Linked DNA regions of Homo sapiens. The protein of the gene in region 1 interacts with the protein of each later gene in a pairwise test. Each region holds a gene or a part of one and is shown on either strand. Other genes may lie near its edges.

Region 1 (7,918 bases):
TGTTGTTTTCCGCACAGACATCCTTTTTGAAAATTTCACCATGACTTTTGCTTGTGTTTTCAATGCTCTGTACTGTTGAAGGACTGTTGCTGACGACAGAAGGTATATAAAGCTCCTGTTCAGATTTAGAAGTTAAAGCTACGATGTGAGATGTTTCAGGCATGTTTGTAGAATTACCTTTATAATCTACTTCAGGAGTTATAGGGTTTGTGTTAATGTTTTCATTTTGGTTTCTGCCTGTCTTGTTTTGAATAACTGAATCCCAGGAAGAAGTACTGTTAGCCCACAGACGGGTATAGTTTGCTTTTGTTCCAGGAGACAAAGAAAAAACTGTTGTCATCAGAAAGGCAAGATGTAGGTAATGTCCTGTGTGTTCCATGTCCGTGGGCATGCTTGGCAATCTGTTGGGATAGCAATATAATTTGTTAGTTTGTGAAAGAATAATGGATCCTAGTTTTGGTAATTGTAGTTAAAAGATAGTGTTGAGATGTTACAAGTAAACTACAAGCTTATGCCTAATATTCGCTACCCTGAATTCCTTCTCAACTAAATTTCTTTTCTATTCAGCTATGTATGAAGAAGCATTTTAATTTCTATTAACACTTTTAGATGCTAGAAGTTAGCATTACAAATAAATATTAATCATTTTAAGTGGACTATCATGGCTTTATATAGTTTTCTTCCTTTGAAGCGTGCTAGACTTCTGCTTTGAGTCAGTTAGTTCTGCTTTTACTTTTCTGATTCCTTCTTTAAAAAAAAAAAAAAATTAAGGATCATTCTTACAGAAACTACCCACCCTCTAACCTGTCACCAATCTTTACAGAAGAAATGTGGCCTTGAGCTTCTTGCTTCATGTATGAAATAAATGCAAATTTTTTTGGTGGAAAGAGGGGAAGTTTGGTAGCAACCAAAAGAAACTGAACTTCAAATAGAAATTCAAGGTGTTCTTTTTTTTTCTTGGGTGTTCATCTTGAAGCTTAGAATAAAGCTGGTACTTAGAAATACATTTGTAAGTGTATTTGTGAACGCAATTTTACTGTGGTGGTTGTCTCTTTTCATTTATATTTCCCTGGACTGACTGTGTCTTTCTGAAGGCAAAGGCATACCAGTTTTCTCAACCTAAAAATCTGAAGAAAAAAAAAAAAAAACAGCAAATTTCCTCTGAGTAGACTTAAAAGTTCAACAAAAGTTGCTGGGTTTTCTTTTAAAGCATCATTTATACCTAGCATTTTTTCTGATTTTGACATAATTGTAAAAAAAAATGTGTAATAAAATAGAAATAGAGCATCAGGATCTTGATGATTTGGGATGAAGTGGCAGGTTATAAGCATCTCAACAGATAATTGAAAATGTTGAATTTCCGCTTTGGCCCTGAGCTTGCTGGAAACTAGTACAAAAAGGAGACAAGTTATATTATACATTTTTTAAATCTACCAAATGATTGATTTAAATAGAAATGGCATATCTTAGAATTTAACAGTTCCATGTACTGCTAACCCAGCAGGAAAGATTTATAATCATTATTAAGGTATCTTATAATAATATACCAGTTTGTCTTGAGCTACTTTTGAAAGGAGTATTTTATTGTTAGCATTTATTTGAATGAACTAAAAGCAAAACTATATTGTTCTCCTGAGATTTACTAAATGAAATTGCCTGGTTAAGAACCCTACGTATGCTATAGAAATTCTTCTCAAATGTACTTAGGAGTCCTTTTATTTAAAAAAAAAAAAAAAAGGCAGATTCTTACCTAGCTAGTATAGGTAGGGCCTGAAAGTCTTTGTTTCCAAACCAACTCCTAAGCAACATGGATGCCACTGCTAGTCAGGCTTTTGAACATCAAGGTTTTATAAGAAATGGTTGTTATATGTCATTGGCTGACATTTGTATACTATTAAAATACAGAAATTGAAAATAAGAAATGTGATACGTTGAGTTATGCAAACAAAAGTAGCATGTAATAAACAATGCTAACTGGAGACTATATTTCATATTAATAGTAGGGAGGAAAAACTATTAAATATTCCAGGATTAAGATTACTTTTTAGATTATGACCTTTAGTAGACAATTAAAGGCCCAAGTCACTGGCTTTTGTATAATAGTGTTCAGCTTTAATTTTTAAGTTTAGTGACATAAATCTTTGGATATTTCATGATTCTTCCACAAAAAGAAATACTTGAAATTGGATTAGCAAGTAATTTCCATCTTTTTATACTAGACTGGACTTCTGTATTAGATGCTAGAATGATTTAAAGTAGATTATTCTTTTCACATTAGTTCATTAACAGTGTAGTATACATCATAGTATTGGTACACATTTTAACAGTGCTTACCACGGAACAGATAATAGGCCTGCTGTTGATTGTCTTCAGCCAGATGTACTGCAGTGCCCAAATAAACAAACTGTATGACAAAATGAGACTTTCTCTTGCCCTTACAAATGCCTGAGAATTGAGGACTGTTTTTACTCCAGTTTATGCCTTGGAGGCCAGGTTGTGTTATCAGAAGTTTTCTTATATCTGATCATTTTCAGTAGAATTTATTTTCAGTAGAATTTGTAATGTCCAAGCATTAGTAATGAGAAATTTATTTTTTAACTTTTGAAAAATAACAAAACATTTCCAGTTTACTTGAGGAAACCAAACTTAGATCCTTCGTAATCCTAATTTAAAACTCCATGGCGATGGCAAATTTTTTCATTTCTAACTTAAAATTTATGTAACAGGACAGAAAAAAAAAGTATACATTTTCAGTCACAATTCTAGTTTGTTAGTGAGATTCTTACACACTTTGATAGCATTTCCTCGAACACTAATCTGTCAGACGTTAGAAGTGAAAAGGCATAAGAAAAGCCGTATATATATGACCTACCTTACAAAATGCTTGGTCAAAATCTGATTATAACGTGATTTTGATAAACCACTTCTTTTCTTGTCTTCTTTTTAAAGCAGAATAGACTTGGAGAATATGAGCCTTAAAGTAAATCTGCAGTAAAAAAGGATATGTGCAGCTAGTTTTCCACTTTTAAAACCAAACCACAGATGACACATTTCCTTTCCACTGCAACTAAAGCACATGTCACAGGAGGGAAAAAAAAAAAAACAACGAAAAAGCTCCAACTTCTCTAGTTGGCCACTGGCATGACAGGAGGCTTTGTAGAACCAATCCCCGCCTCCAGAGCAGGGAGGGTTTTCCACTTAATGCCTTTTGACAGTATGCTCATTCTATAGGCCTGCTACATGCTTTAGTGTCATTCAAAAGAGGTTTTGAAATGGTATCTTCCATTTCAAATCTTCTCTAAAAGACTTATTTGAAATCTACAGACTGATTTGAAAATGTGAGTTTGGAGTCCATGGGATACTGATCAGATAATGTAACAATTGTGGAACTGCAGCAATTATTTGAGAAAATATCTAGTAAACTTAGATTATATGGGACAGAAAATGCTTTCGTGTGGTGTAGTGTGTGTATACACACACACACACACACACACACACACACACACAACTGTCAAACATCCTGTCATCACCTCAAGTTTAACATGACTGAAACAGACTTTAAGAACTAGGTATGGGCTGAACACGGTGGCTCACACCTGTAATCCCAGCACGTTGGGAGGGTTGACGCAGGCAGATCACTTGAGGCCAGGAGTTCAAGACCAGCCTGGCCAACATAGAGAAAACCTGTCTCTACTAAAAATATAAAAATTAACCAGGCAGGGTAGCATGCACCTGTAGTCCCACCTACTTGGGAGGCTGAGACAGGAGAATAGCTTGAACCCGGGACGTGGAGGCTGCAGAGATCATGAGATCTTGGCTGCATGAGCTAAGATCATGCCACTGCACTCCAGCCAGGAAGACAGAGTAAGACTCTGTCTCAAAAAAAAAAAAAAAAAAAAAAAAAAAAAAAAAAAGAACTGGATATGGCAGCACATATCTGTAATCCCAGCTACTAGGTAGGTTGAGGTAGGAGGATCACTGGTGGAGCCCAGGAGTTCAAATCCAGCCTGGGTAACATAGCAAGACTCCATCTCTTAAAAATTAATTAAATTAATGAAATAAAAAGAACTTTATTTTTTCTTTAAAGGAGGCTGCCTGTGACAGTCTTCTTGTTTCTGTTCATGATAGCAACATTCTAATATCAGAGGCTTAGTATACAACACATCATTTTAATTTAAGTCCTCTCAGTCCTGATCAGACTTTGAATCATGTTGGTCCTTCCTTCATATTGTTGGATCAGTTTCTTTTTCCCTGTTTTTACTGTCAACAGTACTATTTTAGATCCTTATCAGGTCATACCTAGACTCTACAGTGCCTTTTCGGTAGCCCTGAATCCTTCTTATATCTTGTATACATCACTGTCTTTGGTCATACCACCCTTTCTTTAAGGGAAAATAAAACCGGTTGAACAGTTCCCTAATACATACAACAATGATTCAGAAATGTTTGTGTACATAAACATCAGATGAGAAGATTGTTTAAAAATTATAAAAGCAGGACATGGTGGCTCACACCTGTAATCTCAGCACTTTGGGAGGCTGAGGCGGGAGGATTACTTGAGCCACAGAAATTCGAGACCAGCCTGGGCAGCATGGCAAAATCCTGTCTCTACAAAAAATACAAAAAAACAAAAACAAAAAACTAGCCGGGCATGGTGGCGCTTATCTGTAGTCCCAGCTACTCAGGAGGCTGAGGTGGGAGGATCACCTGAGCCTGGGGAGGTCAAGGCTACAGTGAGCTGTGACCGTGCCACTGCAGTCCAGCCTGAGTTAAGGGAAAAAAAAAAAAGATAAAAATTTCCAGGCCCCACTACATAGATCCATATTTAGTAGGTCCAGGTTGGGACCAGGAAACTGCATTTTTATCAAGCACCACAGTTGATTCTGACGCCAGTAGTCCACAGAACATATGCTGAGAAATGGTGAGCCCCTAGTAGAAAACCTAAGCCCTTTGGTTGGGCAGTTATGGTCTCTCCACAATTTGACTATTCTGTATTTTCCCAGCTTTATCTCTCAAAACTTCTCTACCTGAATCCTCCATTCTGGCTAGACTAGCTGTCTCTTCAACACATCTAGTTACCTGTTTCTTTTCCTTTTTGCCTTTCTCCATAAGGCCTGCCCAGTCCTCTTGCTGAGTCTGCATTCCTCCTTACCTGATTCAGCCACTGTATCTTCTATGTAGCTTTCACTGACTGCCCAGTTTGTGTTAATCTCTCTCTCTCTCTCCTTTGTCTTAATAACAGTATTTTCTCTGCATTTCCTTTGATAAGTGATTACTTTCTACCTCATATCTTCTATCTTGAAATATTTGTGTTGTTTTAAAATCATTTGACTTGTCATATTTTTATCTTATTTTCTCCCAACAAGATTAAAAATTCTGAGGTGAAGTTTTTTATTGATACATGATAATTTGTACATATTAATGGAGTATGTGTGATTTTTTTGGTTTTTTTTGTTTTTGTTTTTGTTGGAATCTCGCTCTATCGCCCAGGCTGGAGTGCAGTGGCACAATCTCAGCTCACTGCAAACTCCCCTCCCAGGTTCAAGCAATTCTCCTGCCTCAGCCTCCCAAGTAGCTGGGGCTACAGGCACGTGCCACCACGCCCAGCTAATTTTTGTATTTTTAGTAGAGACAGGGTTTCACCCTGTTGGCCAGGCTAGTCTTGACCTCCTGACCTCAGGTGATCTGCCCGTCTTGGCCTCCCAAAGTGCTGGGATTGCAGGCGTGAGCCACCATGCCCTGCCTGTATGTGTGATATTTTGATACATGCATATAATGTGTAATGATTAAATCAGGGTGATTAGGATATCCATTGCCTCAAAGAAAAGAAATTGTTTCGTCTAGCTGTTTTGAAATATACAATGTTATTATTAACTAGTCACCTTACTATGAATAGTAGAACTTGTTCCTTCTATCTAATTCTAACAATACATATATTATTTATTTTATTATTATTTTTTTAAGACAGTCTCACTGTTGCCCAGGCTGAAGTGCAGTGGTACAATCTCAGCTCGCTGCAGCCTCTGCCTCCCAGGTCCAAGTGATTCTCGTGCCTCAGCCTCCCAAGTAGCTGGGATTACAGACATGTACCACCATGCCTGGCTGATTTTTGTATTTTTAGTAGAGACAGCGTTTTGCCATGTTGGCCAGGCTGGTCTCGAACTCCTGGCCTTATGTAACCCACCTGCCTCAGCCTCCCAGAGTGCTGGGAATACAGGCGTGAGCCACTGTGCCCAGCCCTGATTATATTTTTATATCCATTAACCAACCTCTGAGGTAAAGATTTATTTTAACTTACTTAGTAGTATTATCACCAGAATCATCACATATGGAAAACTTTGGGCCTAAGTTAACATAGATTGTTTTGATTTGAAACTTTGGTACCATTACTTCAGGGCTTTTTCATGGTCCTCACTGTGGCTGCTCCCATTTATTAGTATTCTTTTGGTTTTAAGCAACATATGACCTAATATGGCTTAATCAAAAAATGGTATTTATTGGCTTATGTAACTGAGCAGTCCTGGGATAAATTTGACCCCAGGAGAGGCTTTATCTCATACACAAATGATATGGCCAGGGTTCCAGTTTGTCTATTTCTCAGCTCCTTCTCTTCAGTCTTTTGGGAGGCTCTTCTTTTATATCCCAAAATATGAGCTAGCAACTCCTAGGGCTACGTATTCCCTTGTTTATAAACACCAGGAAAGAAATATCTCAAATCCCAACAATTTAAGCTAAACTACCTGAACTGGGCCTCTTTGGCCCTGGTTGTCCTGGTTTGAATAATGTGTTCATTGCTGAATCAGTCTGTGATCAAGGTGGGATAAATGGATTGGCTAAAACCATCTCACTCCAGAGCTCCAGATGGGTCATTCCTACCAGACTATTCGCCTAAGGAGTTTGGTGGGCCCTGCAGGCAACCAACTAATTCCCACTGTTTTCTTCCTTTCTTGACTCATGGGCAAATTTTTTATTGTTGTCGTGGCTCAAAATTTTTGAATTGGAGATTTGTCTCTTCTCTTAGCCTTATTTCTCAGTGTCCAAAAAACAACTGATTTAAAAAATGAATCCAGACTTTGAAGAATTGTTTTATATTATTCTCTCTAGAAAATGAATCATAAAATAAAATTGATTAGTGGCATCTGTATATTTATTTTAAACACTGCTAATAATCTTTGTCTTTTTTGTCATTTTCCTTAGGTTCAAAACTGGTCAAATCAATGGTGATTTGCTGATATACCATGTCTTACTGACTTTAAAGCCATATTATGCAAAGCCATATGAAATTGTAGTGGACCTTACCCATACCGGGCCTAGCAATCGCTTTAAAACAGACTTTCTCTCTAAGTGGTTTGTTGTTTTTCCTGGCTTTGCTTACGACAACGTCTCCGCAGTCTATATCTATAACTGTAACTCCTGGGTCAGGGAGTACACCAAGTATCATGAGCGGCTGCTGACTGGCCTCAAAGGTAGCAAAAGGCTTGTTTTCATAGACTGTCCTGGGAAACTGGCTGAGCACATAGAGCATGAACAACAGAAACTACCTGCTGCCACCTTGGCTTTAGAAGAGGACCTGAAGGTATTCCACAATGCTCTCAAGCTAGCTCACAAAGACACCAAAGTTTCTATTAAAGTAAGTTCCAGTCTGTGTTTTGTAAACGATTCATTGCTTTTCTTGACTAACTAGACTATATCCTGGCCTCCCTAGGTGTCCTACCCCTATAGTGGTGTATAAAATGTCACGTAAGGCTGTCGCGGTGGCTCACGCCTGTAATCCAAGCACTTTGGGATGTCAAGGTGGGCAGATCACGTGAGGTCAGGAGTTCAAGACCAGCCTGGCCAACACGGTGAAACCCCGTCTCTACTAAAAATACAAACATTAGCCGGGTATGGTGGTGGGCACCTGTAATCTCAGCTACTT
Region 2 (4,816 bases), on another chromosome or scaffold:
CCAGACATCTCAGACTTGAAACATGGCATTCACCCCTTGTCACCGTACTTCCTTTCACTCTGTAATTTCCTCTCCTTTCTCTCCTATGGAGTGGCCCGAGGAAATTCTAAAATAATGTATTATCCACACAATGGGAACAAAGCAGACTGCCCAGGAACACGCTGATGAGCTTCACAATGAGTGAATGAAAACTTGTGCACCGTGTTTTCTTTTGGTGGAAGGAGGTTCTAGTGGGGCACAGACTGTTGTGTCTTGTAGGAAGGAGAAGCTGCCCCTGGCTGGCACTTGGCCAGTTTCCAGAGAGAGGGGAAGCCATCTGGGCAGGTAGCTGGGAGGGTGGGCTCCCCAGCACCGGGCTCTGAGAGTGCAGTGGCCTGGCACACACAGTGTCCGTCGTCTGAACTGCCACCTGATGCTGTCTCTTGAGATTCAGGTTAAGTCAAAGGATTCCTCAGAAAGAAAGCTGAATTGATGGTATTCTTGATGCTGAGGAATTCAACCCAAACCCAAAAAACACCCAACAAATGTATTGAACATTAAGACATTTTATAAAGTATTTCACAGGGTTATCGTCTTCCACCATGGACCTCTGGAAAGATCTGTTGGGTGAGTTTTAGTCCCCATGACATGCAGAACATCCATGAAGACTTAAAACATGGCACAAGATGGGGCGCTCGGGAGAGCTTGTGGACAATACCAACAGGTAGTTCTCGAGAGCTGCTCCAGGGGTCAGCAGAGGATCTTTCTTTCCTTCTCAGGTCACGGTCGCCACTTCCCACCCCCGAACAAGAAGGTCCCCTTTCACAAACAGGAGGTGACCCTAGCAGACAGCACAGCAGTTGGAGGTTAGACACAGCAAGCTCCCAACCCGGACGCGAAGGCACACGGGAGAGTAAACACAGCACCCACGAGCAACAGGGCAGGGCTTTTTTTTTTGGGCAGTGGGGGGGTGGTTGTTTTCTTTTTTCCACCATCAAGGGCATTTCTGTTTTCTAAAAAGTTATGCCGGAAAGTGGGGCGGCCAGTTAACACCATCTGGGTTTTCAGCTCAAGTTCTACTGCGGCTTTATGAAGACTTCCATCTGATTAAAGAGAACACCGCATGGACCACGTAGAGCAGAGTGGCTATGTAGGAGAACACCTGGAACCAAGAGAAATGGCCGTTAATGGGTTTGTGTAGGGAGGGCGAGGCACAGCGTCTGCACTGCATCCAGCCCCACGTGGCGTAGGGGGGGCCAGACCCAGAGAGCTTGGGCTGTCATTGCTTCTCACCCTCACATGGACGCCCTCCCTGCTGAGCCCAGGTGTGCACCAAATCCTCTCAGTACAGAGCTCCATGTGACCTAACAGTCTCCTGGATCTGGTGTGGAAGGTAAGACTCTCCACTATCACCCAGCATCACATTCGTCTCAGCTTGAGGTTTCGGCTGACTTGAGATGGAGTCCTCAAAGACCCCTCCAATGAAAGCATCTCAGGCAGGTAACTCTCCAGGGACAACTTCCTCCCCCAACACCAGTGAGACCAGCGCCCTCCAGCTGTGGTCCTGGTAGCTCGGTTGAGAGATTGTAAATACCTGGGTTTGCTGGCCCTGGTGAAAGTCTCCATGCTGCCTGGACATTCTCACCCTATCATTATTTTGTTTTAGGATTCTTAATATCACAGGTGTGGCTGAGAGAGCCAGACTTCATAGGAAGTGAGGGACAGAGAAGGGGAGAAGGGATTTTGAGCTTTTGTCTAAAGGAGGGGCCTTACTGTTGGGACCATCCAGTCAGCCACTGTGGCCCTTGGAGCGATGGCCCTGCTTTCTGGGGACTTGCTGTGTCCTCCTGGGCACTGTCTGCTCCCATCACCCTACTCCCTGAAGGCCTGCCTGCTGCCAAGTCCAATCTCTGCACCTGGTTTTGTGACCTTGGTTAGGGGTCAAGAGTTTCCAGCTCAGGCACGACGTCCATTTAGGGCGGCTACGCCTCTGTGACTCCTGAAAATGCTCATCAATCCCAGCCCTCAGGGTGCCTGCTCTCCTGCCCCTACACCTGGCCAAGCCCTTTCCCTCATTGCCTGGAGGCGGTGAGTAAGCTGAATTATTGAATAACACATTTAAGAGAACGTATCTGGGCAGGAGCAGTCAGACACCAGTGGGCAGCCCTCCATAAAAGGTGGGCATTCCAGACCAATGAAAGCCTTTGGCAGAAGCACCTTGGAAGTCCCCAGCAGGAAGAGCAGTGGAGACTCATTTTCCAAGTGGGGTCAAGAAATGGCCCACTGGGAACACGTAGAGCTGGGCACGAATGGGCAAATTTTGGCTTCAGAAAGCCCTCTCCCTAAACTGTAGCCATCACTGCCCACCATTGTATAATCTAGAAACCTCCAGATTTCTCCAGAAATTTCCATCTCGCCCCAGGCGACTTCCACCCATCCCTGGGGTCCCTTTGGCAAAGCAGCTCCGCCACCCACAAAGGAGAGAGGGAGGAGCTCAGCTTGGAACAGACCCTAATTAGTAGCCACACAGTGGATGTGAGGCAGGCTGGCTGCTTCCAAAACCAGGCTGTGTGAGAGAGGGTGTGAGGTGCCTCCCTGTACCCAAGTATCCCCTGGACTGGGCATGCTGTGGTTGGGCGGGTCTGGGATTGAATCCTGAGTAACGAACTTCTTTCTCTCTCACAGACGGATGCAGTTGATACCGTGAGTTGAAAGGTGTGACTTTACATCGAACGCCGTGCAGATTTCCCCTTGGTGGTTTTATCTGGGCACATCTGCCAGCTGAGAACACTCTGGTTCTCAATTCTAACGCTCCTGTCTGCGTGAACATATTCGTGTCTATCCAACTCAACTAAAAAAAAATGGGAACATGGTCAGTCATGGGATGGATAAATAGATGTTGGTCTATTCCTACAAGGGAATACTATACAGTAATGAGAACAAACAACCCACATCTACACCCAGCCACTTGGGTGAGTCTCACAAACACAAGGGTGAGAGAAAGAAGCCACACATGAGTACCCACTGTATAATTCCACTTATATGAAGTTCAAAGGCAGGCAAAACTGAACATGGTGCTAGAAATCAGAATTGGGTGGTGGTGGGGGTGCACAGTGATGGGGACAGGACTTGAGGGGATTTCTGGGAGTTGTTTATCAGGCCCTAATTCTTAGTCCAGATGCCAACTACACTGGGGAGTTTGCTCTATGAGAATTCATCAGACTGTGCGCTGGTAACTGGCCCTAATTCTTAGTCCAGACACCATCCACACAGGGAGTTCGCTGTATGAAATCCATCAAGCTGTGGGCTTGTAACTGCACACCTCTCTGGCTGTGTGCTGCCTTTGATAAAAGGTAAAAGAGGAAAGTCAGAAGGCAGTAGAGCCTAGTGGTTCTCAACTAGAGACCTGCCCAGCGGGAAGGGGTGTTCATTCCCCTAGCTGGGTTTTTCCATCAAGTGCTGACCCACTAACCACATCCCATCTACATTTCGCAACCTTTGTTCACAACAATTTTATGGAAATTATTGTCAGACACTTTGTTGATGTTTGTTAAAAGAGAAGGCTTGGCTGGGATGGGGGAGGTATGAGGCAGTCTTGGGAGAGGGAGATGAGATGGAATTGTGTGAAGAAGATGGAGGGTGGCTCACCAGCCTCCCCAGGAAGGAAGATCAGTCAAGATGCCCCCTGGCTGTGCTGCTGCTTGGAAACCAGCCATGTTGGGAGATGGGCCAACACGGGAGATGTTTCCACACCGCGGGACCCCTGGGGGGATGCCAGGATCCTGAGGGGGCCCTTTTTAGGGGAGCGATTGTAGGCTGGGAGCTTGAGGGCAGTGTGTGGTTTCCCCAGGGCAGGGGACTGTGCAAGGGGACCAGCAAGTGAGGCTTTGAGGGATTTTCCCCTGGGGCCCTCCTTCTGGGAGTGGGAAGAGGCACTTCACCAACCCCATTTCTAAAGCCTATCTGTGGGTCTTCTCTCAGCCTCTGCCCTACACTTTCCAAAAAGAGGGGATGACACAGCTTTGGCTACTAGAGCTGGTATCTCAGGATCTGTCACCACATTCTACCTTGGGATTTGCATAATTCATAGGTTAAGTTCTAGAGATCTGAAGAGTGCTCTTTCTGAAACTTCTTACTTTTTAACAATACCCATGGTCAGAAGCATGTTTTATATCGTAGACTGGTGCAAGGGCACACATGCACAGCTCTGAAAAACATGTGATGAAACAATATATTCTGTTACCCTGTCATTCTGATCCAGTCCATTAAGAAGAAAATCCACCTGGCCTCAGCGTCCCCACCCCTGGCTGGATGCTTCAATGGACGACCACTTGGGGAGAGTCAGGAGACCCATGAGGTCAGACTCACAGCCCCAAACTGGTGCTGAGAGTGTGGGGACTGGGCCTCCAGCGTTGATGCCAGGTCCCACAATGACTGGTGATCTTGGGCCAGTCACACTCTCTGGCCCCACTTCTCCATCTGTGAGATGGGTGTCATAATCCTGGGTTGTAGGGTTGCCATGGATGTTAAATAAGATTGTTCAGGGAGCACTCGGACAGGGCGCTGGGCAGCCGCATCCCCTCACACATCTGCCCTCTGCAAAGCCCACGCAGGCCTGGGGCATGCAGCCCTGGCCGGACGACTAAGCGGAGTCTTGGGCACAACATGACACTGCCCTTCTCGGGGGCTTTCCTGCTCCAGGCATGAAGGCAAGGTTTGACCTCACTCAAAAGTTAGTGAACTGAAAACAGACCAAGGGCCTAGGCAGCCTCCACACACACCCTGCCAGCCACGGAGCCGCCCGCTGTGGACACAGCCCCAGGTGCCCGGACTCACC
Region 3 (7,031 bases), on another chromosome or scaffold:
TGACCTTTGGCTGGAGTCTCCAAGAACACCTCCTTAGATCACTCGGCAAAAAGCAATGTAAGCGGCCAGGTATGGTGGCTCACGCCTGTAATCCCAGCACTTTGGGAGGCTGAAGCAGGTGGATCACCTGAGGTCAGGGGTTCGAGACCAGCCTGACCAACATGGAGAAACCCCATCTCCACTAAAAATACAAAAAATTAGCCGGGTGTAGTGGCGCATGTCTGTAATCCCAGCTACTCGGGAGGCTGAGGCAGAAGAACCGCTTGAACCCTGGAGGCAGAGGATGTGGTGAGCCGAGATCGTGCCATTGCACTCCAGCCTGGGCAACAAGAGCAAAACTCCGTCTCAAGAAAAAAAAAGGCCAGGCACAGTGGCTCACGCTGTAATTCCAGCACTTTGGGAGGCCACAGCGGGTGGATCAACTGAGGTCAGGAAGTCAAGACCAGCCTGACCAACACGGAGAAACCCCATCTCTACTAAAAATACAAAAAAAAATTAGCCGGGCATGGTGGTGCACGCCTGTAATCCCAGCTACTCGGGAGGCTGAGGCAGGAGAATCGCTTGAACCAGGAGGCAGAGGTTGCAGTGAGCAGAGGTCGCACCATTGTACTCCAGCCTGGTCAACAAGAGCTAAACTCTGTCTTTTGAAAAAAAAAAAAAAAAAAAGTGATGTAAGCAAGGTTGAGCAGAGATCTCTGTCCCCACCCCAAAACCAAGAGCAACCCACTCTGGGGAGGAAAAAGATCTGGTTATCTGACACAAGAAAACAGTAGAGCCCTTGGGGAGAAAGCTGTTTCCTAGCATTTGATACATGGCCCAAGGCTTCATGTGCTCTACCTGATTCAGAGACGTGGCCCATCTGGGAATTTCCTTTTAGGCATTCCTCCTCTCCCAACCCCATTTTCTGAATGAGCTTACACAGTGAAATACTGGGCCGGTTCTCCACACGGCAGCCAGAATGAATCTGTTAAGACTTAAGTCAAAAAGTTGGCAAGACGCAGAGCAACTGGAACACTTGCTGGGGGGAGTGTAAAGAAGTACAACCACTTCAGAAAACAGTTTGGCAGTTTCTCATAAAATTAAACATCATCTGCCCTGTGACCCAGCAATTCTACTCCTGGGCATTTACCCAAGAAAAATGAAAACAAATATCCACAAAAAGACTTGAACATGAATGTTCAGACGTAATAGCCAAAATATGGAAGCAATCCAAATGTCCCTGAAAAGGAGAATGGATAAAAAGAAGTTGTGGTATGTTACAATGGAATGCTAGTCAGCAAAAAAAGGAACTACTGATACACGCAATAAAACAATGAATCTCAAAAACATCACGCTGAGCAAAAGAAGCCAGACGAGAGCTCAGACTGAAATAAATACACATACATACATACATACATAGTTCATAGTGAAAGGTTCCATTTATATGACAGGCAAAACTAATCTCTGTGAGAGGAATCAGAACAGTGGTTCTTTTCCTGTCTCTGGATGGGGGCAGGGAGTGTGGGATTGACAGGCAAGAAGCACTGGGAAGCTTTTGGGGGTGATGGAAGTGTTCTGGATGATGACGGGGTGTGGGTTATGCAACTGTATACATTTATCAAAATTCATCAAGCTGCAACACTAAAAACCTGTGCATTTCACTGTGTGTCAATTATATGTCAATAAAAGACAATGTTTAAAAAATCTTAAACCAGATTATGTCACTACTCTGCTCAGTATATTTCAATGCCTTCCCATTTGTTCACTGGATATTTACTAAGTAATATTACATGCCAGGCAGTGCTCTGGGTGCTAGGGGTTCAGCTAATACCAGAGACAGAAATCCCTGACTGCAGGGAGGGAGCTCGCAGTCGAAGGGGGAAGATAATTAACCAATTAAGTACTTTATATGGCACATTAGAAGGTAACATGTGCTATGAGGAAAACTAATGCAGAGAAGAGCAGCAGGGGAAGTATCAGGTGGGGGCACGGAGTGGGTGTGTAATTTTAAGCAAGGTAGAAAGCAAGGCCTCACTGAGCAGCTGACATTTGGGCAAATAGGTGAAGGAAGTGAGAAAGTGAACCACATGGTTAGAAGCAGGAAAAGCATTTCAAACAGAGGAAGCTGCATCTACAAAGGACCTGAGGGAGGGGCAGGAGGGGTTGTGCATGCTCCTGGACTAGAAAGGGCAGTGTGGCTGGCCCAGGATGAGCAGGAAGAAAGGAGGAGGGTGGGTCAGAGAACTGGGGGGAGGGCAAAAGGTGGGCAAAGAATGTAGGGCCCTAGGGAGTCACTGTAAAGACCCTGGCCTTTACTCTGAGCAAGATGGGAGCCACTGAAGAGTTCTAAGCAGGACTGACAGGGCTGCCCTATATTTTAACAGAATTACTCTGGTGGCTGAGTGGGAACAGCCTGAATGGGACCAGAACAGAGGTAAAGAGACCAGTTGGGAGCCTGCCGCAAAAATCCAGGGACAGATGATCACAGTGGTGGCTGGACACGGTAAGAAGTGGTCAGATCCTACATGCATTTTGAAAGGAGAGTCAACAGAATTTGCTGATGAACTGGATGTGAGACGTGGGAGTCAAGGACGATGCCCACAGCTTTTGGCCTGAAGAACTAGGATGAAGCTGCCATTGAGCAAAATGGGGAAAAAGCTGTGGGCGAAGCAGGTTTCCTTGGGGAGAAGATCAGAATTTGGTCTCAGACATGTTAAGCTTGAGATGTTTATGAGACAGTTCTAGGAGAAGTTGCTGAGCAAGAAGTTGGATATGAGTCTGGAGTTTAAGAGTCACTAGCTTAACAGATGGCATCTGAAGCCATGAGCTACATCACCAAGGGAGTACATGGAGATAGAGAAAAGAGGCCCAAGGACTGAGCCCTGGAGGTTGGGGAGTAGGACTGGTTAAGATCGCCATGACAGAGACCCTGCCTAACTCACCAACTGTGTCTCATGCCCCCTCTGGCTCACACAGACCTTTCAGTAGATCCTAGCCAATGTCACACTCTCTCTCACCCACCACATTTGCACTTAGTGGTCCTTCAGCCCTGGAGGACTCAGCATCACAATCAGACTCCAATTCCACCCCGTGGCCAGCTCCTTATCCTTCCGTCTTCAAGTCCTAGTTTGAACGTCACTTTCACAAAGACAGCCTCTTCCCTTCACCACCACCTTGTACTTTCTATTACACCACCTCATTGATTTCCTTCACTGAACTTTTTATAATTAGCTGCCAGGCCACCACAGCCTTTTGATTTTCCTCTTACTCCTCTGGATGCTTGCTCACATCCCCTTTACCTGTGCCTTTTCTTCCCCCACCTCTAATGTGGGAGTGTCCCAGGGCTCAGACCAGGACTGACTTTTCTACCAACACTCCCTCCCCCTTGATGACCTCACCCAGTCCTACAACTTTATCTATAGACCAATGACTCCCAGATATGTAATCTCTAGCCCAGGCTTCTCTGAACTTGAACTACCCATTTGACATCTTTGTTAGGAGATTTAATAGACATTAAGATGTCCAAAGTTGGCCAGGCGCAGTGGCTCATGCCTGTAATCCCAGCACTTTGGTAGGCCAAGGTGGGTGGATCACCTGAGGTCAGGAGTTTGAGACCAGTCTGGACAACATGGTGAAACACCGTCTCTGCTAAAAATACAAAATTAGCCAGGCATGGTGGCAGACGCCTGTAATCCCAGCTACTTGGGAGGCTGAGAATCACTTGAACCCGGGAGGCAGAGGCTGCAGTGAGCCGAGATCATGCCACTGCACTCCAGCCTGGGAGACGGAGTGAGACTCTGTCTCAAAACAAACAAAAAACAAAACAAAAAACCACGAAGTCAATTGCTTGCTTTTCCCCCAAAACTTGTTCTATCCCCAGCCTTGCCCTTCTCACATGATGACATCACTCCAGATGGTATCTTCCAGTTCTCAGGTCAAAACCTTTGAGTTATGCTTATGCAGCTATTGATAGGCAATGGTATGATTAACTGGGGCCTTAAAGATGATGAAGATATGACATTTACAAGGTGGACAGGCATGATTATTGGGCCACCAAGGACAAATTATGAAAAGAGAATATAGGCCGGGCATGGCAGTTCACACCTATAATCCCAGAACTTTGGGAGGCCAAGGAGGGCAGATCACGAGGTCAGGAGTTTGAGACTAGTCTGCCCAACATAGTGAAACCTCATCTCTACTAAAAATACAAAAAATTAGCTGGGTGTGGTGGTGTGCACCTGTAATCCCAGCTACTCGGGAAGCTGAGGCAGGAGAATCACATGAACCTAGGAAGCAGAGGTTGCAGTGAGCCGAGATCACGCCACTGCGCTCCCGTGTGGGCCACAGCGCGAGCCTCTGTCTCAAAAATAAAAAAAAAGAATATATAGCCTGAAAATAGAAAGTGGACCCAAATACCCAGAAGCTCCCCCATCAGTTAGATTTGTAACAAGAATTAATATGAATGGAATAAATAACTCCAGTGGGATGGTGGATGACCGCAGCACACCAGTGTTAGCAAAATGACAAAATTCATATAGCATTAAAGTTGTACTTCAGGAGCTAAGACGTCTAATGATGTCCAAAGAAAATATGAAGCTTCCACAGCCACTGGAAGGACAAACATACAACAATTAATTTTAGTGGATCTCAAACTTGTCTTATATCAACAACCTTCTACTCGTGTTAATGTCTTGATTAAATATCACAATGCAAAATACCCACACGTTAAATAAAAGAACTCCGGCTGGTAAACATGACCTGGACATTTGTAAGAATATATTTAATATATGTACACCCATTATGTTTTCAGGTAACAGGAAAAATGCAACCCAATTTTTTTCTCTTGTTAAGGTACTGTCATTTAAACATAAACTTGGAGTACTCGAAATATAATTCAGGTTTACAAGATGAAAGCGTGGTAAGAAGTGTCAGATGGCAGTGGAAGCATGTGTGTTTCTAAAGACTAAAAATCTCAATAAAGAAAACAGGGCTGGGCACAGTGGCTCATGTCTGTAATCCCAGCACTTTGGGAGGCTCAGGCGAGCAGATCACTTGAGGCCAGGAGTTCAAGACCAGCCTGGCCAACATAGTGAAAGTCCGTCCCTACAAAAAATCCAAAAATTAACCAGGCGTGGTAGCACGCGCCTGTAGTCCCAGCTACTTAGGAGACTGAGGTAGGATGATCGCTTGATCCCGGGAGGCAGAAGTTGCAGTGAGCTGAGATCGCACCACTGCACTCTAGCCTGAGTGACAGAGTAAGACCCCCATCTCAAACAAAAAAGGAAAGGAAAAAGAAAACAGAGGCCAGGAGAGGTGGCTCACACCTTTAATGCCAGCACTTTGGGAGGCCAAGGTGGGCAGATCACCTGAGGTCAGGAGTTTGAGACCAGCCTGACCAACATGGAGAAACCCTGTCTCTACTAAAAATACAAAATTAGCAGGGCGTGGTGGCCCATGCCTGTAATCCCAGCTACTTGGGAGGCGGAGGCAGAACTGCTTGAACCCCGGAGGTGGAGGTTGTGGTGAGCCGAGATCGTGCCATTGTACTCCAGCCTGGGCAACAAGAGCAAAATTCTGTCTCAAGAAAAAAGAAAACAGAAATGGCATGCTTTATCCATCTTGCTTAGTGAAAGAGAGCTGCAGTTGAAATTGTTTAAAAAGTAGCAGGTATTGGCCAGGCATAGTGGCTCACGCCTGTAATCCCAGCACTTTAGGAGGCCAAGGAGGGTTGATCACTTGAGGTGAGGAGTTAGAGAGACCAGCCTGGCCAACATGGCGAAACCCCGTCTCTACTAAAAATACAAAAATTAGCCAGGCGGGCACCTGTAATCCCAGCTACTGGGATTATACTTGAACCTGGGAGGCGGAGATTGTGGTAAGCCAAGATCGCACCACTGTACCCCAGCCTAGGCGACAGAGCAAGACTCCGTTAAATTAAAAAAAAAAAAAAAAGTAGCAGGTACAATGAACACTGTCACAAATGTGTTTGATTTTTTTAATTTTTTTTATTTTTTTGAGATGGAGTCTTGTTCTGTTGCCCAGGCTGGAATGCAGTGATGAGATCTTGGCTCACTACAACCTCCCAGGTTCAAGCGATTCTCCTACCTCAGCCTCCCAAGTAGCTGGGACTACAGGCATGCACCACCATGCCCAGCTTATTTTTGTATTTTTAGTAGAGATGGGGTTTCACCATGCTGGCCAGGCTGGTCTCGAACTCCTGAACTCAGGTGATCTGCCTGCCTCAGCCTCCCAAAGTGTTGGGATTATGGGTAAAAACTACCACATCCAGCACAAATGTGTTAATTTTTGAAGTGGTGTGGGTGCTGACTACTAGTAGTATGAAAAATATGTTCAGGATTGTTTTGATACCTATCTTATAATAAAAAATGTTGGGGGGGAGTTGATGAATTTCTGTTAAAAGCTGTTCATGTGTGTTACACGTAACAGACATGGTAAATATTTGCTTACAGTTTTTTTTTTTTAACAAACTATGCACTTAAGGTTAAGTGACATCAACAAAAAAGGGATACATATATGGAGATATAATTTTGAAACTAAAGTTGGTCTTTTTTTTTTTTTTTTGAGATGGAGCCTCTCTCTGTTGCCCAGGCTGGAATGCAGTGGCATGATCTCAGCTCACTGCAACCTCTGCCTACTGGGCTCAAGCAATCCTCCTGCCTCAGCCTCCCGAGTAGCTAGGACTACAGGCACATGCCACCACGCCTGGCTAATTTTTGTATTTTTAGTACAGACAAGGTTTCACCATGTTGGCCAGGCTGGTCTGGAACTCCTGATCTCAAGTGATCCACTTGCCTTGGCCTCCCGAAGTGCTGAGATTACAGGCATGAGGCACAGCACCCAGCCCAAAGTTAGTCTGAAAATGTAAATAAAATGTGGAATGTGTCCAAGAAAAAAAAAAACCTTTGAGTTATGCTTAATTCCTCTGTTTCTCTTTACCTCACATCCAATCCATCAGCAAACCCTGTCTACCTTCAAAGCATATTTAGAATCTGGCTACTTACCTCTTCCACTACCACCCGCTAGATACAAGC
Region 4 (7,031 bases), on another chromosome or scaffold:
GAAAAGAGACACCCTGCAAAGGGAAACATACTCCACACTAGCTAATGAAGCCCCTTCTTTTATGCTTTTATCTTCCAGATATTTGGGTTCTTGGTCTGGACCATGGTAGCCGCCACCCACATAGTATACCCCTTGCTGCAAGGATGGGTGATGTATGTCTCGCTCACCTCGTTTCTCATCTCCTTGATGTTCCTGTTGTCTTACTTGTTTGGATTTTACAAAAGATTTGAATCCTGGAGAGTTCTGGTAAGAACCAGCAGCATGGCTCTTCCTGGGTGGACGTTCTGGGTTGGGTGAGGACAATTGGCCTTTCTGGGCAGGGAGGGATCCTGGGCTAGGCTCCTATGGAACCAAGACTTTTTATCTTACCATTTTTACTACCACGCTAAAATGAAGACATTTATCTGCAAGCGTAAATAATTCCTGGTATTCCCCTTCACTGGCTTCCCTGTTAGGAGAATACACAATGACCTGTGATCAAGCATATTCTGATGTGTTTCCCCTAAATTTTCTTCCTGGTAAAATCCTTGGAGCAACACTGAAGAAAAAGCTAGTAGGAAAAAAATCACTCCATTCTCAAGGCCCTAACACAATCCCTGCGACAGGGTATTTCTTCCATATCCCACATGAATTATATGCAAAGTATATATACATATATACGTATATACATATGTATATATGTATATATATGTATATATATACTTTAATTGTACTCTACAAATAATTTTGGATGTAGATGCTTTCATTTAATATTACATCACTAATTTTTATTTATCACGTCATCTCAAAAAACCATTTAAAACTGTTCCACACTGAACAATTGAAGACATATTTAAAAGTACAGAATATTGTATTATAGGCCCTCATGTAGCCATAACCCAGATTCCAGCATTATCAAGACCTTACCACATTTGTTTCATCTAGCCTTTGTCCCCACTAAGGAATTTTAAAGCAAACACCAAACATCATGCCATTCTATTCCACACACTTCAGTATGTTTCCAAAAAAACTCCGCAAACTTTCTCACATTATCACATGTATACGAAGTAAACAATTCCTCAGCATACCTAAGACAGTATACAGTGGTCCCCCATCTCCGGAGGATAAGTCCCAAGACCCCTAGGGGATGCCTGAATCCTCAGAGAGTACTGAACTCCGAATTTGCTATGCATGCACTTCTTTTTTCTTCTTCACAATTTCACAGATAGACAATTCATTCTTACTGTAGATCTTAACAACCTCAGCATATTTTTTTTCTTTCCTTATTAAGCTGAAAACTTATACTTTTTAACTTAAAGAAAGCACCCTATGACTTCTCTTTGGCATATCCAAATTGCCAGCATCACTACTCTTGCAATTTGGGGCCATTATGAAGTAAAATAAGGATTCTTTGAATGCAAGCACTGCAGTGCCACAACAGTTGATCTGATAGCCCAGATGAGTACAAAGCGACTAACATGGGTGGCACAGACAGTGTAGACATGCTAGACAAATGTCTGATTCACATCCCAGGTGGAACAGGGCGGGACAGTGCAAGATTTCATCATTGTACTCAGAAAGGCACACATTTAATTGTTAATTTCTGGAATTTTTCATTTAATATTTCAGACCAAGATTGACTTTGCGTAACTGAAATATACTGATCTTTATTAGTCTGCCATTGCTTACGACATAGATATTACATTAAAAACACTGTGTATTAGTCTATTCTCACATTGCTATAAACAACCAGAGACTGGGTAAATTATAAAGAAAAGAGGTTGAATTGACTAGTTCCTCATGGTTAGGGAGGCCTCAGGAAACTTACAATCATGGTGGAAGGTGAAGGCTAAGCAAGGCATGCCTTGCATGGCAGCAGGAGAGATGGGGGAGGGGGAAGTGCCATACTTTTAAACCATCAGATCCCATGAGAACTCATTCACTATCATGAGAACAGCATAGGGGAAACTGCCCCCATGATCCAATCACCTCCCACCAGGTCCCTCCCTTGATACATGTGGATTACAATAGGAGATGAGATTTGGGTGGGGACAAAGAGCCAAACCATATCATTATACCACTGGCCCCTCCCAAATCTCATCCTTCTCACATTTAAAAATACAATCATGCCTTCTCAACAGTCCCCCAAAGTTTCAACTTATTCCAGCATTAACCCAAAAGTTTAAGTCCAAAGTCTCATCTAAGACAAGAGAAGTCTCTTCTGCCTATGAGCCTGTAAAATCAAAAAGCAAGTTAGTTACTTCCAAGACACAATAAGGGTACAGGCATTGGGTAAATGCTCCCATTCCAAATGGGAGAAATTGGTCAAAACAAAGGGGCTACAGGCCCCATGCAAGTCCTAAACCCAGCTGGGCAGCCATTAAATGTCGACATTCCAAAATCTCCTTTGACTTCATGTCTCAGATTCAAGTCACCCTGTTACAAAGGGTGGGCACCCAAGACCTTGGGCAGCTCCACCTCTGTGGCTCTTCACAGTACAGCCCCTGCAGCTGCTTTCACAAACTGGCATTGAGTGTCTGTGCTTTTTCAAGGTGACCAGTGCAAACTGTCAGTGAACCTACCATTCTGGGGTCTACAGGACAGCTCTTCTCACAGCTGTACTAGCCAGTGTCACAGTGGGGACTCTCTGTGGGGGGTCTGACCCCACATGTCCCTTCTGCACTGCCCTAGTAGAGGTTCTTCATAAGGGCTCCACCCCTGCAGCAGACTCTGCCTGTACATCCAGTCATTTCCATACATCCTCTGAAATCATGGCAGAGGTTCCTAAACCTCAATTCTTGCCTTCTGCATGCCTGTAGGTCCAACACCATGTGTAAGCTGCCAAGGCTTGAGGCTTACACACTCTGAAGCAATGGCCCAAGCTGTACCTTGGCCCCCAGCTGCTGGAGCTGGGGCAGCCGGGTTGCAGAGTGCTGTGTTCCAGGACTGTGCAGAGCAACAGGGCCCTGAGCCTGGCCCACAAAACCATTTTTCCCTCCTAGGTCTCTGAGCCTGTGATGGGAGGGGCTACTGTGAAGATCTCTGAAATGCCCTGGAGATATCGTCCCCTTTGTCTTGGGGACCCTCATTACTCATGAAAATTTCTGCAGCTGACAGCTTGAATTTCTCCCCAGAAAATATGTTTTTCTTTTCTAACACATGATCAGGCTGCAAATTTTCCAAACTTTTATGTTCTGCTTCCCTTTTAAACATAAGTTCCAATTTTGGACCATCTCTTTGTGAATGCATATGATTGTACACTTTCAGGAAAAGTCAGGTCACATCTTGAATGCTTCAATGCTTAGAAATTTCTTCTGCCAGATACCCCAAATCATCTCTTTTAAGTTCAGAGTGCCACAGATCTCTAGGACAGGGGTAAAATGCCACCAGTCTCTTTGCTAAAGCATAGCAAGAGTGACCTTTATTCCAGTTCCCAATAAGTTCCTCATCTCCATCTGAGACCACCTCAGCCTGGATTTCATTGTCCATATCACCATCAGCATTTTGGTCAGAATCATTCAACAAGTCTCTAGAAAGTTCCAAACTTTCCTACATCTTCCTGTCTTCTTCTGGGTACCCCAAACTGTTCCAACCTTTGCCCATTATCCAGTTCCAAAGTTGCTTCCACATTTTCAGGTATCTTTATAGCAGTGCCTGACTCCTGGTACCAATTTTCTGTATTAGTCTGTTCTCACACTGCTGTAAAGAACTACCTGAGGCTGGGTAATTTATAAGGAAAAGAGGTTTAATTGGCTCACAGTTCTGCATGGCTAGGGAGGTCTCAGGAATCTTACAATCATGGTGGAAGGCGAAGGGGAAGCAAGGCACACCTTACATGGCAGCAGGAGTGAGAGAGGGAAGTGTCACACTTTTAAACCATCAGATCTTATGAGAACTCCCTCACTATCACGAGAACAGCATGGGGAAACTGCCCCCATAATCCAGTCATCTCCCACCAGGTCCCTCCCCCAACATGTGGGGATTACAATTCGAGATGAGATTTGGGCAGGGACACAGAGCCAAACCAAATCACACTGCAAAAAAAAAAAAAAAAGGCAGGACTCTAGGGGGCTGGCCTGCCTCATTTGCTCATTCTTTACTGCTATGTAGCCAGAGAGGAAAATGTTCACCTGATTGATGTGGCCATGCGTGGCTCTGCTCTGCATTTCCAGGACAGCCTGTACCACGGGACCACTGGCATCCTGTACATGAGCGCTGCCGTCCTACAAGTACATGCCACGATTGTTTCTGAGAAACTGCTGGACCCAAGAATTTACTACATTAATTCGGCAGCCTCGGTGAGTGGGCTGGCCAAGGACAGCAGTCTTGCCTGGAGGATGTTTCGTGCAGGAGGCCTAACTTTGCTTGTGCTGTATAGACCCTGAGCCCTCAAGTGGAAGGAGCCATGGGGGCAGGGGATAGGGATGTGTGTCCCTGTAAACATGTGCACCCACGTTCAGGGGTCCTCTTTTACCTTCTATTGTTCCCACTCCAGCTTTCCTCTCTCTTAGACACCCCCCACGCTGTCTGCAGAATTTTCTTTTTCCAAAACACAAATTGGAACAGATGTCTCTCTCCTACTGAAAATCCTTCAATGGCACCCACTGCCTTTGGAATGGGGCCCGCATCCCTCGGCATGGCTGAACTATTGAGAGATGAAGCAGGGAAGGGGAAAGTGGAATGTCGAGGTCTCAGGGGAGGAGGCATCAGGGAAGGCCCTGTCAAGAGGACAGAAGGAGGCAGGGGCCACCAGGCAGTTACCCCTGCTAAGGTCCCACCAGGCAGTTACCCCTGCCAAGGACCCTCTGTGTGCTCAAGGGCAGCCAGGAGGGTGGTGTAGCTGGGACAGCTGGCCATGGAGGATTGCAGGGGCCGTTGCTGGTCTTGCAAGTTTAGGAAGTTAAACTCACCTGATGAGGAGGGAAGGGAGGCAGACAGGCCAGAAGGCAGCTGAAATATCTTGTGGCCACCCCAGAGGGTCACAGTGCACTCCACAGTGGGTGGCATTTACCTCCATCTAACCCATGTATGTGCTACTCATCTATCTTGCTGCTATCTGCTTCTTATCTCTCAAATGTAAGCTCCATGAGGGCAGGAATTTTTGAATATTTTCTTCACTGTTATACCCACAGTTGCTCTTGAAGGAAAGCAGGTCCTTAAAAGATATTTGTTGACTGACTGACTGAATGAGGAGCGTGTGAGTGGACAGTGGGGCAGAGTGGGGCTGGGATGTTTGGCAGGGCCTGAAAGGTATTGAAGGTGACGGCCCTACCCTGAGAAAAGAGCAGAGCCATCATACAGCTTCAACGTGGGGCAACGGGATTGTGTTCTCCCCATGAGTGAGAAGTGTCCTCACTTGTCCACTTCTGCCTGCCCTGCCCAAATGGTGGAGCAGATTCGAGGGGCAGGGCAGGAAGAAGTGGACAAGTGAGGCCATGAGGAGTCCTGCCGAGGGATGCCGGTGGCTGAGACAAGGGAAAAATGAATGTCCCAAGAGCTAGGCAGGGAAATCAGTAGCCTTTGGGGTGGCTTTGCATATGGCTGGCAAGGGAGGCAGGAGGAGCCAGGGGCCACAGGGGTCAGGCTCAGGGAGTGGGGCGAGAGGAGGACCCTGGGGCCCACTGGGCTTGTCAGGCTTGTGAGGAAACGTCAGGGGCTCAGTGTGAGCCAGGAAGAGCTGGAGGATGTCTGAACATTCACGAGGAGCTGATAAGCAGCCGCTCAGGGCAGAGTTCTGGGCCAGCGAGGGGAGCTGTAGGAGTGTTCAGAACACAGATTTGCTGGAGGTGGGCAGAGGAGAGCGGGCCTCGGGCAGGAGGTCAGCGTGGGATATGGGCCCAGAGCTGTGGTGGAGGTGAGCCTGCTTCACAGCCAGGTGCAGATGAGGTGGAGACTGCAGTCGGGGCAGGACACCAGGACGGCCCCAGGGAGGCCCTGATGGAGAGTTTCCAGAAGAGGGAGTTGTTGGCCAGGGGTTGCTGCCCTCAGGCCACGCAGGAGGCGAGGAGGCAGGGTCATGCGTGGCCTCCTGGGCAGTGGGGCTGAGGGTACCTGAGGGGTGGGCAGGAGCTGGCGCTGCTGTCTCTAACAGTCACTCTCCACCTCCTTCCAGTTCTTCGCCTTCATCGCCACGCTGCTCTACATTCTCCATGCCTTCAGCATCTATTACCACTGATGCACAGGCGCCAGGCCAAGGGGGAAATGCTCTTTGAAAGCTCCAATTATTGGTCCCCAAAAGCAGCTTCCAACGTTTGCCATCTGGATGACAAACGGAAGATCCACTAAAACGTCCACGGGATTAACAGAACGTCCTTGCAGACTGAGCGATGACACCACACTTTGTTTGGACATTTAAATTCACTCTGCTGAATAGGAGGAAGCTTTTCTTTTTCCTGGGAAAACAACTGTCTCTTGGAATTATCTGACCATGAACTTGCTCTTCTAGACAACTCACATCAAAGCCCTCACTCCACTAATGGAGAATCCTAGCCCCACTAATGCCAAGTCTGTTTGGGGATTTTGCCTCAGCTATGGGCTTCCCTAGAGTAGGTCTAGGGGAATACTCAGTCTGATCTTTTTTTTGTTTGTTTTATTTTGTTTTTTTTGAGACGGAGTCTCGCTCTTCCTCCAAGGCTGGAGTGCAGTGACGCGATCTCCACTCACTGCAGGCTCCGCCTCCCGGGTTCCCGCCATTCTCCTGCCTCAGCCTCCCGAGTAGCCGGGACTACAGGCGCCCACCACCGTGCCCGGCTAATTTAGTTGTATTTTTAGTAGAGATGGGGTTTCACCGTATTAGCCAGGATGGTCTCGATCTCCTGACCTCGTGATCCGCCCGCCTCGGCCTCCCAAAGTGCTGGGATTACAGGCGTGAGCCACCGCGCCCGGCCTGATTCTCTTAAAATTGAAGAGGTGCTGCCAAGGCCTTCAGATCTAACGCAGATGCATAGACCTTGTTCCTGGTACTTGTTCAGCCTGTGCTGGGGAGCCGTGGTCCCGAGTTCCCTGGGAGGCTGACAGGGTCAAGCCACCCTGCCCACCACCCTCCCACTTCC

The links.
Region 2: the proteins of EVI2A (region 1) and MAL interact in binary tests that used the Homo sapiens proteins (3 or more experiments, as listed by UniProt).
Region 3: the proteins of EVI2A (region 1) and UBIAD1 interact in binary tests that used the Homo sapiens proteins (3 or more experiments, as listed by UniProt).
Region 4: the proteins of EVI2A (region 1) and MALL interact in binary tests that used the Homo sapiens proteins (3 or more experiments, as listed by UniProt).

What each region holds. Positions count from the first base shown.
Region 1 is NC_000017.11:31,318,623-31,326,540, forward strand, and holds the start of EVI2A (protein EVI2A isoform 2 precursor), read right to left. Parts: upstream 3,001-7,918; 5' UTR 2,873-3,000; intron 1,892-2,872; exon of another isoform or gene 1,810-1,891; coding exon of another isoform or gene 1,751-1,809; intron 402-1,750; coding exon of another isoform or gene 392-401; coding exon 1-391. Other genes in the region: NF1 (neurofibromin), read left to right, coding at 7,198-7,630. UniProt on the Homo sapiens protein: May complex with itself or/and other proteins within the membrane, to function as part of a cell-surface receptor.
Region 2 is NC_000002.12:95,049,706-95,054,521, reverse strand, and holds the end of MAL (myelin and lymphocyte protein), read right to left. Parts: coding exon 4,816-4,816; intron 1,142-4,815; coding exon 1,067-1,141; 3' UTR 530-1,066; downstream 1-529. UniProt on the Homo sapiens protein: May be involved in vesicular trafficking from the Golgi apparatus to the cell membrane. Plays a role in the maintenance of the myelin sheath, and in axon-glia and glia-glia interactions.
Region 3 is NC_000001.11:11,276,194-11,283,224, reverse strand, and holds part of UBIAD1 (ubiA prenyltransferase domain-containing protein 1), read right to left. Parts: intron 4,812-7,031; exon of another isoform or gene 4,352-4,811; intron 4,049-4,351; exon of another isoform or gene 3,950-4,048; intron 1-3,949. UniProt on the Homo sapiens protein: Prenyltransferase that mediates the formation of menaquinone-4 (MK-4) and coenzyme Q10. MK-4 is a vitamin K2 isoform present at high concentrations in the brain, kidney and pancreas, and is required for endothelial cell development.
Region 4 is NC_000002.12:110,084,818-110,091,848, reverse strand, and holds part of MALL (MAL-like protein), read left to right. Parts: intron 1-78; coding exon 79-246; intron 247-4,151; coding exon 4,152-4,277; intron 4,278-5,325; exon of another isoform or gene 5,326-5,416; intron 5,417-6,091; coding exon 6,092-6,154; 3' UTR 6,155-7,031.